Homo sapiens: one gene and its partner. Changing the gene in region 1 together with any one later gene gives a genetic interaction. Each region holds a gene or a part of one and is shown on either strand. Other genes may lie near its edges.

Region 1 (3,652 bases):
TTCTCAGAAAAACCAACCATTCACTCAATTTTCAATTAGAGAAAATAATTTAGATTATTTTAGAAAACACCCATTCATTGTCCTGTTTTTCTTTCCTCCAGAATCCCAGCCATTCTTCTCCCCAAAACTTAATCTAAAGCTAAAACTAAACTGTATTAATGGCAACCACCCAAGAATCAAATTGGCTCTATAAATCATACTGCCTAATAGAAGTCAAGATTAAAATAGGGTAGTTAAAACTGAATAAAAACTTCTTACCATTGTATTTTATTATTTCATGTTATAGTTAGAGTTTTTTTTTCTACACTTACTGTCCATCTTCACTCCAGACTGCCATACACTTGTCTCCTACTTTCCATGAATGAGTAGGTTGAGTAGAAGCAAAACTGTCTGAACTTGCAAGCGTCTCAGAAGGTTGAGTTGACAGAAGGTCTTTGGTTAGTTCTATAACTTCCTAAAAAAGAAAAACAAAAACTACAACATTATTTTTATAATTCTCATTGTCAACTTAGTTTCTGATGACAGCCTTCATACTGTACGTTAAGTACTCTACATATATTTCATTTGCAGCTCATAACACTATTAAGCAAGTACTGTGATTATCCCCATGTAGAAACTGATACAGTATTGTCTACCAGTTAAGTGGCAGAGCTGTGACTTAAGCCCATATAGTTGCCTTTCAACTTAACCACAAATACTAATGAAAATATAAGACTTGAGCTTATACCATGCATTATTTCTAAGTGCCTATTTTAGCTGAATAGATCTCTCTAAAGATGAGAAAGTCAAGTATGAGGCACTGAATTAGATACTCTTATTGTAACATATTTTATGCAACTGTACTGTTTTATAGGGCATTACTCAGCAGTATTAACTGCCAAGCAATCCCAAAACACTTTAAGCAGCTTTATTAGTAACAAAAATGTTCCTACTTATACATATCTCGACTAAAATACTACAGGCAATGTAAAAGAAACCAGTGGTCTTCCTATTCAATTATTGTAAAACTCACCCCATCTGGGTAAGCAAATTACCAGGTTAGATTTTAAATGTTCCATACCTTAATGTTAAGCACATTAGCACAGCTTCATTTAAAAGGGGGAAAAAAAGGTAACACACAAAGGCAATGCCTTTCTGTGTGGCAAATATTTTTTTCTAATTCAGGCTTACATTTATTGGCTTCATTCAAAGATGTTTGGTGTAGGGATGGCTAAAAAATTGAGAACAGTACAAGCCGACAGATTCTGCTACCTGTCTACTATATTGTTACTCTAATGAAGATCCACACTATGCATCTTATCTGATCTAAGAACTTGCATAGCTGTTCACCCATTGTTGCATTTAAAACATCATACTGTGTGTTTGGGGAGAAAAATTAACAAAGTTAAACTATGTACTGAGTTTCTTCTAGTTCCCACTGAGGTTTCATAATAGTAATTTTGATTCCAGTAGCCAAGAAAGTTAAATATTACCTCTCTCCTAAAGATTCTAAATCTTCCTGGCTATTTCTGAAAAAACTAATATTTGAGTCTTAAATCTCTTGAAGAAAGGTTAGTTTTATAAATAAATAAATAGAACACTTAGGTTTGATTTAAAAATTTAGTAGGAATAATATCTCTAAGTTTTATTAGTTGCCAACTAGCCATTAATTAGATCTTTTTAATTAGACAGTCCTTTGCAAACAAAGCAAAGAACCTTCCAAATAACTAGATCAAGTAGTACACAACAGAAGAGTAAATTATCTGGTCTTATTTTTAACCACTTTTAGGGGTAGGAATGTAATCCAGTCAGCCTGACTCAAGAGCCCACACAAATCTCTATCATTAAATACTTCCAGATCCACCTAGGGATCATTTAACTTAAGCACAGACATGAATTCTGCACTTGTAGGTTTCAGATTTAGAACTCTATTTCTTTTAGGACAGAACTGTTTTCCAAATATATTTTGTTAAAGAAATATATTTCATCAAAGAAAAGGGTCCTGAAAAGCTGTGCATATTAGTGAATTCAGAGGCCTGTGCTGAAATGACCCTTTTTTAGAAAAAATCCAGAGCATTTACTCCTAATGTCCTTTAACTTTGCCATGGTTTTACATAACCCTCCCAACAAACTATGAAGAACCTTCTAAATTTCTATTCTTCACATGTGCGTATGGACCAAAGTATTAGAAAAACTATTTTATGTATGAGGGGGTTCTTGAAGGTACATACCATTAATTACTTTTCCTCCCTCAAGTCTGAGTTCTGAAACTGCTCCTTCATCGACAGATGGGCAGCAGTTACAGTAATCGGCAATTCCAGGAAGCATCAGGTGTTGTGATCTACATATCAGCAGGTCAAATGGGGTGCACTCAAGCACTCTGCTTACTGAAGGAAGGCGTTTCGGGGATGCAGAGAGCCACTGTAATATATGAGACAAGTGACTTGACCCCTGCCTCCTTTAGAACCAGCTTATTCAGCAAAACAGCCTAATAAATTGACTATCTCTGATTATCATAGACTGCCCGGGGAGCTAGTCAGCTAGCTAGCCTGGATTTTATCACACCCACTTTTTTAAGTGAAAAAAGAAAGGCAGGACTTTAGTAGATTATTTTGCTGCCTGCTGAATAACTTTAGTCTCTATGAAAGACAGTACATGAAAGAGATAAACATGGAAACCTTACTGGCAAAATGAAGTCATTGAAAAGATGCAAAAAAAGCATTTTGTCATAAAACAAAGGGCAAACAAATTAATAACTGGGATAAGGATCTAATTCTATAGAGGAACACAAGAAATTAGAAACCATATGATGGTCAAAAAATATTAATATGAGGAAGCCACAAAATCAGTCTGAACAGACTTTTCACCAAATATAACAAGCTGAATTAAATACCCATAGCATGAGATACATCCCAGAAGGCAGAGAAGGAAAAAGGAGGGGAATGAGGGGGGGAACCCCACAGCAAAATAGAAGCTGTTAAGTGTAGTCTCAATGGAGACAACAATTACTGAGTGGAAGCTTATAGCCAAATACTTTTCAGAGTATTACCTCATCTTAAAAGATGGTTTCCGTTTTTGAGTAGTTTTCAATTCAAAATAGACCTTATCTAGGGACCAAAATGAAATTTCTAATGATAGAATAAAATGGGAAGAAACTCTGATCAAGACTGGTCAGGAAAAACATTCTGTTATTACTATCTGAAGTATTAAAACTTGCACTTCTAAATCCTTGCCATCCAGTATGGTAGTCACGTGTGGCTAATTAAGTTATACTAAAAACTCAGCTCCTAAGTAAACCTAGCTGTATTTCAAATATCCAACCAAATGTGGCTAGTGGCTATGGTACTGAATAGCAGATATAGAACATTTCCATCATCACAGAAAGTTCTACTGGACAGTGCTGTTTTAAATGGTTATAGAAAAGAGGATACTTTACAGAAAAATGATTTCCAGGTCATTATTAACTGAACCCCTGCAAGCAAGCCTTTTAGGGGCTTACTACAGTGTTTATCACAATGGTTTCCCCCTACAGTACTTTCCACTATGATGATCATGACATGGTAAGGCAGTTCTGCTCAGACTCTAATGAGGAATTATTCTAGAAATATTAAAAAGACCTGATGATAATGCTATTTCTAACTCCACTCCCAACTTCCCCAACCCAACCAGTTCA
Region 2 (3,652 bases), on another chromosome or scaffold:
CACTGCAGGTTCAACCTCCTGGGCTCAAGTGATCCCTCAGGCTCAGGTGATCCCCCTGCCTTAGCCTCCAGAGTAAGTAGGACTATAGGCTAGCCTCCAGAGTAGGTAGGACTATATGCCCAGCTAATCCAGATACCCTTTTTATTAAAAATCTGAAAATCAGGCTGGGACCAGTGGCTCACACCTGTAATTGCAGCACTTTGGGAGGACAAGGTGGGTGGATCATGAGGTCAGGAGTTCGAGACCAGCATGGCCAATATGGTGAAACCCCATCTCTACTAAAAATACAAAAATTAGCTGGGCATGGTGGCGCATGCCTATAGTCCCAGCTACTCGGGAGGCTGAGGCAGAAGAATCACTTGAACCCAGGAGGCGGAGGTTGCAGTAAGCTGAGATCGTGCCACTGCACTCCAGCCTGGGCAACAGAGCAAGACTCTGTCTCAAAAAAAAAAAATCTGAAAATCATTATGGTATGTCATCTACCCTTATTATAATGCTAAAATGATTTCTGATAAAATAGTTCCTAACTCAACTAGAAAACTATAAAGAATGAAAGAATGAGCAGAGTACTCATGATGCCTTTGAGTAAAATCGAAACATCATAGAGCGTGATCTAATTTCCAAATCAATAGGCAGTATTGTAACATTAAAGGAAAGCTATTCCAATCACTTAGAAATACTTGCTAAGTACTGCTTTTTACAGTTATGACAACTGTTTCTATGCATATGAACCAAGCAACCAAATATCTATAACCATGGAAATATCTGATTAGAAATATTTCTAATTTGGGCCGGGCTCGGTGGCTCACGCCTATAATCCCAGCACTTTGGGAGGCCAAGGCAGGCGGATCACCTGAGGTCGGGAGTTCGAGACCAGCCTGACCAATATGGTAAAACCCCATCTCTACTACAATTACAAAAATTAGCCAGGTGTGGTGGCATGCACCTGTAGTTCCAGCTACTCGGAAGGCTGAGGCAGGAGAATCGCTTGAACTCAGGAGGTGGAGGTTGCAGTGAGCCAAGATCATGCCACTCCAGCCTGGGCAACAGAACAAGACTCTGTCTCCCAAAAAAAAAAAAAAAAAAGAGAGAGAAATATTTCTAATTATTGGCCGGGTGCAGTGGCTCACGCCTGTAATCCCAGCACTTTGGGAAGCCAAGGTGGGTAGATCATTTGAGGTCAGGAGTTCGAGACCAGTTTGGCCAACATGGTGACACCCTATCTCTACGAAAAATACAAAAATCAGCCCCTTTTCACAAGATGGCACCAAAAGCTAAGAAGGAAGCTCCTGCCCCTCCTAAAGCCAAAGCAAGGCTCTGAAGGCCAAGAAGGCAGTGTTGAAAGGTGTCCACAGCCACAAAAAAAAGAAGATCCGCGTATCACTAGCCTTCTGGCGGCCCAAGACATTGCGACTCCGGAGGCAGTGCAAATATCTTAAGAGCACCCCCAGGAGAAACAAGCTTGACCACTATGCATCATCAAGTTTCCTCTGACCACTGAGTCTCCATGAAGAAGACAGAAGACACACGCACTTGTGTTCACTGTGAATGTTAAGCCACAGCACCAGAGAAGCTCTATGACACTGATGTGGCCAAGGTCAACACCCTGATTCGGCCTGATGGAGAGAAGGAACATGTTCGACTGGCTCCTGATTACAATGCTTTGGATGTTGCCAACAAAATAGGGATCATCTCAACTGAGTCCAGTTGGCTAATTCTAAATATATGTATATCTTTTCACCATTAAAAAAAAAATTATCAAGGCATGGTGGCGCATGCCTGTAATACCAGCTACTCAGGAGGCTGAGGCAGGAGAATTGCTTGAACCTGTGAGGCGGAGGTTGCAGTGAGCCGAGATCACGCAGCTGCCCTCCAGCCTGGACAACAGAGCGAGACTCCATCTTGAAAAAAAACCTGAAATATTTCTATTGGATTCTGAATACAAAATTTCGCATGGGAGAAATCTTACTTCTTATGCCTGTTACAGTATAATTCCCAAATGTACCATCAGAAAAAAAAAAAAAAACCAACAGCTTATTTTTAAAAGTATACATAGAAATCTTGTTTCTAGGCCGGGTGTGGTGGCTCATGCCTGTAATCCTAGCACTTTGGGAAGCCGAGTCAGGTGGATCACTTGAGGTCAGGAGTTCAAGACCAGCCTGGCCAACATGGTGAAACCCCATCTTTACTAAAATACAAAAATTAGTCAGGCGTAGTGGCACAAGCCTGTAATTCCACCTACTCTGGAAGCTGAGATGGGAGAACTGCTTGAACCTGGGAGGTGGAGGTTGCAGTGAGCTGAGATTGTGCCACTGCACTCCAGCCTGGGCAACAGAGTGAGACTGTCCAAAAAAAAAAAAAAAAATCTTTTTTCTATTCCTATCAACTCTAAACATTTTTACTGACCCACAAACTGGGTCACACCAACTGGTTACACTAACTGATATGTGATCAGTTTCTTTTTTTTTTTTTTTTTTTTTTTTGAGACAGAGTTTTGCTCTTGTTGCCCAGGCTGCAGTGCAATGGCATGATCTTGGCTCAGTACAATCTCTGCCTCCTGGGCTCAAGCGATTTTCCTGCCTCACCCTCCCGAGTAGCTGGGATTACAGGCACAAACCAACACGCCCAGCTATTTTTTGTATTTTTAGTAGGGATGGGGTTTCACCATGTTGACCAAGCTGGTCTCGAACTCCTGACCTCAAATGATCCTCCCACCTCGGCCTCCCAAAGTGCTGGGATTACAGGTGTCAGCCACTGAGCATGGCCATGTGATCAATTTCATTAACTTCTCTAAAAAAAAATTCGTATTTCTTTTTAGAGATGGGGTCTTGATACACTGCCCAGGATGGCCTCAAACTCCTGGGCTCAAGCTATCCTCTTACCTCAGCCTCCTGAGTAGCTAGGACTACAGGTGTGCACCACCACATCTGGCAGTTTCATTAGTTTCTTGATTATCCTTTAGGCATTCCTTTTTGAGAAAATAAGCAAATACAGTTGACTCTTGCACAGCACAAGTTTGAACTGCACGAGTTCACTTGAAAATTTTTTTGGAGATTTGCAACAATTTGAAAAAACTTGCAGATGAACCACATAGCCTAGAAATATGGAAAAAATTAAAAAGGTATGTCATGAATGCATAAAATATATGTAGATACTAGTCTTTTATGATTTACTACCATAAAATACACAAATCCAGGCTGAAACGGGAGAATCGCTTGAACCCGGGAGGCAGAGGTTGCAGTGAGCCGAGATCGCACCACTGTACTCCACCCTGGGTGACAAAGCAAAACTCCCTCTCCAAAAAAAAAAAGTTAAAATTTATCAAAACTTACACACAGAAACACAGACTGTACATGGTGACATTCGCGGTCAAGAGAAATGAAAATAAATGTAAAGATGCAATATTACATAACTGTATAAAATTATAATCCAAACTACAACTGTCACAATTTTGTAGCCACCTATTGCAGTGAACTCAAGTGTTGTATCTGCTTAAAACACAGTAATGCTGATCATCTTGTAAGCAGTTGTCTCACCAGTAAATTGCATATTACAGTAAAAGTGATCACTCATGGTTCCTGCATATTTTTCAGTAATGTCATACCATTAACCTCAAATAGTAACGTGGGACCTATAGGAGGTGCCACTAGTG

What was found.
Region 2: changes in SMNDC1 (region 1) and CENATAC together harm fitness more than expected from each alone (negative genetic interaction), as found in Homo sapiens cells (one large-scale study listed by BioGRID).

What each region holds. Positions count from the first base shown.
Region 1 is NC_000010.11:110,298,337-110,301,988, forward strand, and holds part of SMNDC1 (survival of motor neuron-related-splicing factor 30), read right to left. Parts: intron 2,401-3,652; exon of another isoform or gene 2,214-2,400; coding exon of another isoform or gene 2,211-2,213; intron 455-2,210; coding exon 312-454; intron 1-311. UniProt on the Homo sapiens protein: Involved in spliceosome assembly.
Region 2 is NC_000011.10:119,001,056-119,004,707, reverse strand, and holds part of CENATAC (centrosomal AT-AC splicing factor), read right to left. Parts: intron 3,096-3,652; exon of another isoform or gene 2,883-3,095; intron 1,756-2,882; exon of another isoform or gene 1,115-1,755; intron 1-1,114. UniProt on the Homo sapiens protein: Component of the minor spliceosome that promotes splicing of a specific, rare minor intron subtype. Negative regulator of centrosome duplication.